Homo sapiens: one gene and its partner. The protein of the gene in region 1 interacts with the protein of each later gene in a pairwise test. Each region holds a gene or a part of one and is shown in the gene's direction. Other genes may lie near its edges.

Evidence for each region. Proteins that work in one complex are often made in the same cells at the same time.
Region 2: the proteins of NOPCHAP1 (region 1) and BMX interact in a two-hybrid assay, tested with the Homo sapiens proteins (one large-scale study listed by BioGRID and IntAct).

The regions. Positions count from the first base shown.
Region 1 is NC_000012.12:104,984,816-104,988,415, forward strand, and holds the start of NOPCHAP1 (NOP protein chaperone 1), read left to right. Parts: upstream 1-1,500; 5' UTR 1,501-1,537; coding exon 1,538-1,652; intron 1,653-3,351; coding exon 3,352-3,438; intron 3,439-3,600. UniProt on the Homo sapiens protein: Client-loading PAQosome/R2TP complex cofactor that selects NOP58 to promote box C/D small nucleolar ribonucleoprotein (snoRNP) assembly. Acts as a bridge between NOP58 and the R2TP complex via RUVBL1:RUVBL2.
Region 2 is NC_000023.11:15,552,807-15,556,406, forward strand, and holds part of BMX (cytoplasmic tyrosine-protein kinase BMX), read left to right. Parts: intron 1-3,266; coding exon 3,267-3,341; 3' UTR 3,342-3,600. UniProt on the Homo sapiens protein: Non-receptor tyrosine kinase that plays central but diverse modulatory roles in various signaling processes involved in the regulation of actin reorganization, cell migration, cell proliferation and survival, cell adhesion, and apoptosis.

The DNA.
Region 1 (3,600 bases):
AATAAAGACTGTTAAAAGAACAAACAGGAAAGGAAGCAATAGAGTGAAAAGGCAACCTACAGAATGGGAGAAAATATTTGTAAATCATATATCCGATAAAGGGTTAATATCCAGAATATATAAATAACTCCTACAACTCAACAACAAAAACACAAATAACCAGATTAAAAAATGGGTAAAGGAGTTGAATAGTCATTTCTCCAAAGAAGATATATAAATGGCCAACAAGCCCATGAAAAGGTGTTCAGCATCACTAAATCATTAGAGAAATGCAAACCAAAACTTCAAGATATCACTTCACACTCACTGGGATGCTCACTGTCAAAAAGAAAGAAGCAACCAAACAGAAAAAGGAAATATTGACAAGGATGTGGAGAAATTGGAACTCTTGTGCACTGTGGGAATGTAAAATGGTGCAGCCACTATGAAAAACTATACGGAGGCTTCACAAAAACCTAAAAAGTAGAATTACCCTATTATCCAGTAATCCCATGTCTGGGTATGTATCCCAAAGCATTGAAAAGCAGGGTCTCTAAGAGATATTTGTACCACCATGTTCATTGCAGCAGCGTTCACAATGACCACGAGGTGGAAGCAACCAGCACGCCTGTTGAGAGATCAATGGTAAGAAAATGTGGTATATACATACAATGGCATATTATTCAGGCTTAAAAAAGAAGAGAATCCTGTTATGTGCTACAACATGTCTAAACCTTGAGGGTATTATTTTAAGTGAAATTAGTAACAAAAAGGCAAGTACTGTATGATTCCACCTACATAATGTATCTGAAGTAGTCAAGCTCATAGTAACAGAAAGTAGAACGATGGTAGCTGGGCATGATGGCTCACGCCTGTAATCCCAGCACTTTGGGAGGCCAAGGTGGGTGGATCTCCCGAGGTCAGGAAATCAAGATCAGCCCGGCCAACATGGTGAAAACCCGTCTCTATACAAAAATACAAAAATTAGCCGGGCGTGGTAGTGTGCACCTGTAATCTTAGCTACTTGGGAGGCTGAGGCACCAGCCTGGGCGACAGAGCAAGGCTGTTTCAAAAAGAAAGAAACAAAGAAGAAAGTAGAATGGTGGTTACCAAGGGACTGGAGTAGGGGTAAATGGGTATAAGGTTTCAGTTTTGCAAGATGAAAATGATCTAGAGGTCTGCCACCACTGAATTGTACAACTAAAAATGGTTAAGATGGTAGATTTTGTTACGTGTTTTTTCACCAATTAAAAAAAAATTTAATAAAAAAGGATAAAGAGGAGGGAAGCCTAATGTTATGCTCTTTATGCCCGAATTTGGCGAAATCGAGCCTTGCCCGCTGTTTTTTCCTATGACAGTGTCTGAACCTTTCTTTTTCCCAGGAGTAGGAATGGCCCCTGCTCCCGCGCAGCCTCCAGGCTGCACCACGCTCGCCCCGCCTCTCTCTCCGCTCCTTACTCCGCCCACCGCAGTTTCCTCCAATCGCGGCCCTCTCCCCGCCCCCTTACCCGAGCCTTTTTCCTGCATCCGGGCCTGAGAGTGCAGGCTTGAGGGAAGCATGGAGGTCCATGGCAAGCCCAAGGCTAGCCCGAGTTGTTCGTCGCCCACCCGGGATTCCTCAGGAGTCCCAGTGTCCAAGGAGCTGCTGACGGCGGGAAGCGACGGCCGCGGAGGTGACGGACGGGTGACGGCGGCATGGGCCGCACACGTGCGGCAGAGGAGGCGCGGCCGGTGCAGTTTGGGAGCCGGCCGGTGGCTCCCTGCCCGGGCTCCGTACCCTCGAGGGGAGCCCCGGGGACTGCTGCGGGGCTCCGGCGTGCCCTGCCCGCGGCAGGGGTGGGGGCTTTGGGGCGGGCACCCGGCTGCGGGCCCGGAATGGTTTCCCCAGCTAGTGGTTCTTATATTCTGCAAGGTAGTGAGCGCCCACCCTGCCAGGCGCCGCTGCCAGGCATCTGCCCTGCCCTGGAAGCTGGGAAGCTCTCGAGTTCTTTTGGGGAAGGGAGGGCTTTTGGTTTGGCTGCCTGGGTCGGAGCAGTTGGCTGATAGGGGGAAGCGGAGTAATATTATGCTAACAGTCCCTACCTCTTTCACACCCACACAGACCACCCCTTAGTGCTGCTGTCTTGTAGAGGGAGACATGCATCCAGGAAATCCACACAGCATTTCAGACACTATAGGTAGAATTTAAAAGCACGAGTTCGAATCCCAGCTCCACTAGTAATTAACTGGTGGGACTTAGAGTTATTTTCATTCCCTAAGCCTCAGTTTTTGCATTTGGAAAATGGTGATAGTAGTAATGCCTGTAGAATTTTTGTGAGGAGGAGAATGCCTAAAAAGGCTTGGGCATGTTGTCAGTAAATACTAGCTTGAAGAAAAGGTTTTGTGAGAACCCAGAGATTCCGAAGGAAGTATAATAATGATAACCAAAGCTTATGTAGTCCTTACTATGTATGCCCCAGAAACTAACTCATCTAATCCTCACAACAACCCTTTGCAGAAAATCTGTTATCTCTGTTTTATAGTTGAGGAACCTGAGACATGATTTATCATACAGGTAATTTACCTTCTGGAGATCATGTGGCTAGAAAGTAGCAAAACTGGGACTTGAATTCAAGTAGTCTGGCTCCAGACTCTGTGCTCTGATCACGAATCCAGTAGGCCTTAAGTAGTAGGCATTCAATGGATGTTTGTTGCGGCTCTGCTTTGCAGGTGAACAGGATTTGTTTTTTAACCAGAGAGTTAAGGGATTTTCCGGGTATTAGAAATAGGGTGTGCAAAGCCTTGAGTTTTGTACGTTCCCCTCTTGGAACTCTGATGGGATAGAGAGTTGGGATGATTTGAGTAGTGAGAAATGAGGCTGGAAAGGTAGAGTGGGTGACAAAATCCCCAAAAGGCTGCTTTCCTTGGGTTGAACGTCTTCAGGGAAGGGGAAATACCAGGCAAGCATGTTTTACTAATGAAGAAACAAATGCTTGAAGATCAGGTAAGTTGCCCAGTGTTACACAACTAGTAACCATTTCTGGCTTCACTTAACCATTGTTATGCTCTGTACTGTTTCCTCCGTTCTGTCATTGCAGACCCACGTTTGTCTGCTAATGAATTTCTGATCCAGAAAAGTGCAGATTGGTGTGCATTTATTACCTGCCATTGGTGATAGAGGTGAATGAGACAGATGTAAGAAAGGAGAGGTGGCTGGCTGTACATAAAGAATTAAAATGTTGTAATGGAGCTTGGAGTTCTCCTTTAAAAAAAAAATTTTGGGGGAGTGTGGACAGTCAAGTCTTAAGACTGGTCATGTGAGAGGCTTACTGATGGGCCTTTGTTTTTTTATGCTGTAGTAAATTAAGGGTGTTTGTGTGTCTGTATTTTCAGGTATATGGGACAGGTTGCTCATCAACTCCCAACCTAAGTCCAGAAAGACCTCCACTCTTCAAACAGTTCGGATAGAGAGGAGTCCCTGTAAGTACCTCTTCCCCTCTCTCACCCTCTCTAATGCTGAGTTTTGTCTGATTAAGCTGTGGGACGGTCTCTGCCTTCATTGTCAGGTATCAAACCACAGATAGTCCAGTGGAACAAGTCCTACTTGGGATTTACATGATAAAGTCAGTACACAGAATGGAA
Region 2 (3,600 bases), on another chromosome or scaffold:
CAAAATAAGATTTAGTTGTATTTTGTTTTCTCACAGCCACCACAAGACTGAACAAAATATTTTCTGTTTGGGCATTCTGAGGAAGCTGTATTACAGTTAACTGTTAATGCTGTGTGAGTTTAGAAAAAGTCTTGATAGTAAATCTAACTTTTAACACAGTTAGTGCATGAACTGAGTAGTTAAACATTTCCGTATTCAGACAGGAATAGTGGAAAAGGTATCTTAGGTGCGTTACTCAATCCAAATGTGACTGAATCATTACAGTGGACCCTCATGGTGCATTGAAAAGAAACTGTTTTATATCCAGGTTTCAGAGGACCTGGATAAATAAAAGCTTTGGATTTTGCATTCAGTGTAGTTAGTTGGATTTTGGGACCTTTGCCTCAATGTTAGCTACTGGGATTGGCATATGTGTTCACAGGCAGAGTAGTTGATCTCACACAACGAGTGCTCTCACAAAACTGGTGTAAGTTTCTTATGCTGATGAGCCCCCGCTTTTTTTTAATTTGGTGCCTACAACTTTGTTACAATGATTGTACTTGCTGGGCTATCAAGTTACAATGCTCTTGGTCTTTTTTGCTGCTGTTTCGCTATTTGTCCTTACACCTAGGCCAAGTACCAATGTTAGCTGTTGGAAGGGATTCTGTTTATTCATTCAACATGCAACTATCTAACTTTAGGGAATGGAAGGAAGTTCATTTTTAAGTTGTGTGTTGTCAGTAGGTGCAGTGTCTAGGGTAGCGAATCCTGTAAGTTCAAATTTATGATTAGGTGACAAATTGACATTGAGATTGTCCTTTTCCCTGATTAAAAAATGAATAAAGGCTTTTTAAAGAAACAAACAAACAAAAATATTGTGTCTAAGATTATCAGGCAGCACTAGAGGGTCAGACTGGGTCTGGGTAGAGTTGGTCACAGCCAGGCTGACTTACTGCTGTCACCTGTCAGATGAAGAAGAGCAGACAAGGGTTTTTCAGTTGAAGCCCAGAACCTCCCTGGCCCTCCCTACTCTAGCTCCTGGGAATATGACTGCACCATAGGATGGACAGGGGCCCTGAGTCGGGAGGAACTGCCTTCTTCTCATGGTTGGTTCATAAAAGCATGTGAATTGTGGCAGAATCTGTGAAGAGGGGTTTGCACTGAGACGACAATATCCAGTTAAAACATTGCACCTAATGAGCAGAGCTTATAGATTTGGGTTTTCCCTCCTTTTTTAGATTTTATTTTGTGACTTTCTCAATTCATAAAGAGATTGAAAGAACATTCACAATTTTCATTAGATTTTGATTCATCCTTCTGGTATTTCTGTATGCAAAAACAAGCATATGTATAGATGTGTGTTTTCTTGCTTCCCTTTCTCTCTTACAAAGAAAAAGTAGCATATGAACTTCTCCTCTCCATAGGCGTTGCCTCACTAGCAATGTAAGAGGGTACCTATTTTCTTATAACCTCACCAATGGAGTGCATTGTCAAGCTTTTGAAGAATTCTTGCCAATCTGATAAGTGAAAGCTTGATGGCATCTTAGTGCAGCTTTAATATATATATCTTTCATTATGAGGTTGAGCCTCTTTTCACGTTTTTAAGGGTCATTTTGTGTCTTTCTGAACTGTCATGTCTTTTTTCTTTTTTCTGTCAGGTTTTAAAGATCTCTTTACAAATTAGGGAGAGTAATACTTTAAGTTATCAGCTTTATTTGATTGAGGGTGGGTGGGTTTTTTTTTCTTTTTTTGACCATGCAGAAATTTTTCTTAATATAGCTGAATATATCAATATTTGTTTTCATTGCTTCTGGAAATTGTCATAGATAGGCTTTCTCATGCCCAAATTATAATGACTTTTGCCAGGATTTTCCTCTAGTACTTTTAAGATTGCATTATTTTCCATTTATGTTTCTGATATAGTTTGTGTTTGTTATGGTATATGGTATTAAATATGGCTCCAAATATATAATTTTATGTGACTATTCTGTTGTTGGCAGCCCTATTTATTAAAAGACCATCTTATCATCAGGAATGAGATACCACCTTAATGGTGGTGAAATGCCACCCTAATATTATACTAAATTTCCATATGTACTTGAATCTATTTGGAGACTTCCTCTTCTGTTCTTTGGTCTCTTTGTTCATGTGCTAGCACCACACTGCTCTGATTCTGTAGAGACTTTATGATATGTTTGAATACTAGGTAGGCTAGCACCCCTCATTGCTCACCTTACTGTATAATTTCTTAGCCATTTTTACATATTTTTTAATTCTATAAACCAAAGAATCAATTTGTTTAGCTTGAAACAAACTCATTCATATTTTTGAGGAGATTGTATTTAGTTTGTATTTTAAGTTGGGAAATTTGACATCTTTATGATACTGACTTGTCCTAGTCTAGAACGAGGGAAGCTTTTTTTTTTTTTTTTTTTTTTTTTAAGACAGAGTCTTGCTCTATCACTCAGGCTGGAATGCAGTGGTATGATCTAGGCCTACTGCAACCTCCACCTTCCAGGCTTAAGTGATTTTCATGTCCCACCCTCCCGAGTAGCTTGGACTACAGTTGTGCACAACCACAGCTGGCTAATTTTTGTATTTTTAGTAGAGACAGGGTTTCGCCATGTTGTTCAGGATGGTCTCGAACTCCTGGCCTCAAGTGATCCACTCACCTCAGCCTCCCAGAGTGCTGGGATTACAGGCGTGAGCCACTGCGCCTGGCCAGGGATGCTTTTTTATATAGTCAAGTCTACATTTGCATTTTTCAGCAGTGTTTTAAAGTCGTCCCCATTTTAGAGGGGCACACTTTTTTAGTGTTTTATTTTGGTGGCGTTGCTATTATAAATGGGGTTTTCTCTTACATGATAACTTCTAAGTGGTTACTGTAGGTATATGTGAAGGCTATTGATTTTGTATGTTAATTTTATATCCTGCTCTCCTAGTGAATTCCTTTATTCTTTAAGTCTGTTCTAACATTGATACTCTCAGATTTTCCAGGTATACACTAAAATGCTTGCAAATAAAGAGACTTTTTCTTTTCCAGTTATTGGGGCTCTAATTGTTCTTGCTTTCCAATTGCATTGGTTAACACCTTCAACATAATGTTAAGAGTGATTATTATAGTGAGCGTCCTTGCCTTATTTCTGACCTCAATTGAAATGTCTGTTGTGTTTCCACATTTTAAAAGTTGCTAGCTTTAGGACTTAGATGTAAATATTTTATATATTTTATCATTGATCATAACTCTCATCATCTAAAACATTGGGTTTCTTGTTGTTTTTGTTTAGCTTCCAGAAAAGCGTCCCACATTTCAGCAACTCCTGTCTTCCATTGAACCACTTCGGGAAAAAGACAAGCATTGAAGAAGAAATTAGGAGTGCTGATAAGAATGAATATAGATGCTGGCCAGCATTTTCATTCATTTTAAGGAAAGTAGCAAGGCATAATGTAATTTAGCTAGTTTTTAATAGTGTTCTCTGTATTGTCTATTATTTAGAAATGAACAAGGCAGGAAACAAAAGATTCCCTTGAAATTTAGATCAAATTAGTAATTTTGTTTATGCTGCTCCTGATATAACACTTTCCAGCCTATAGCAGAAGCACATTTTCAGACTGCAATAT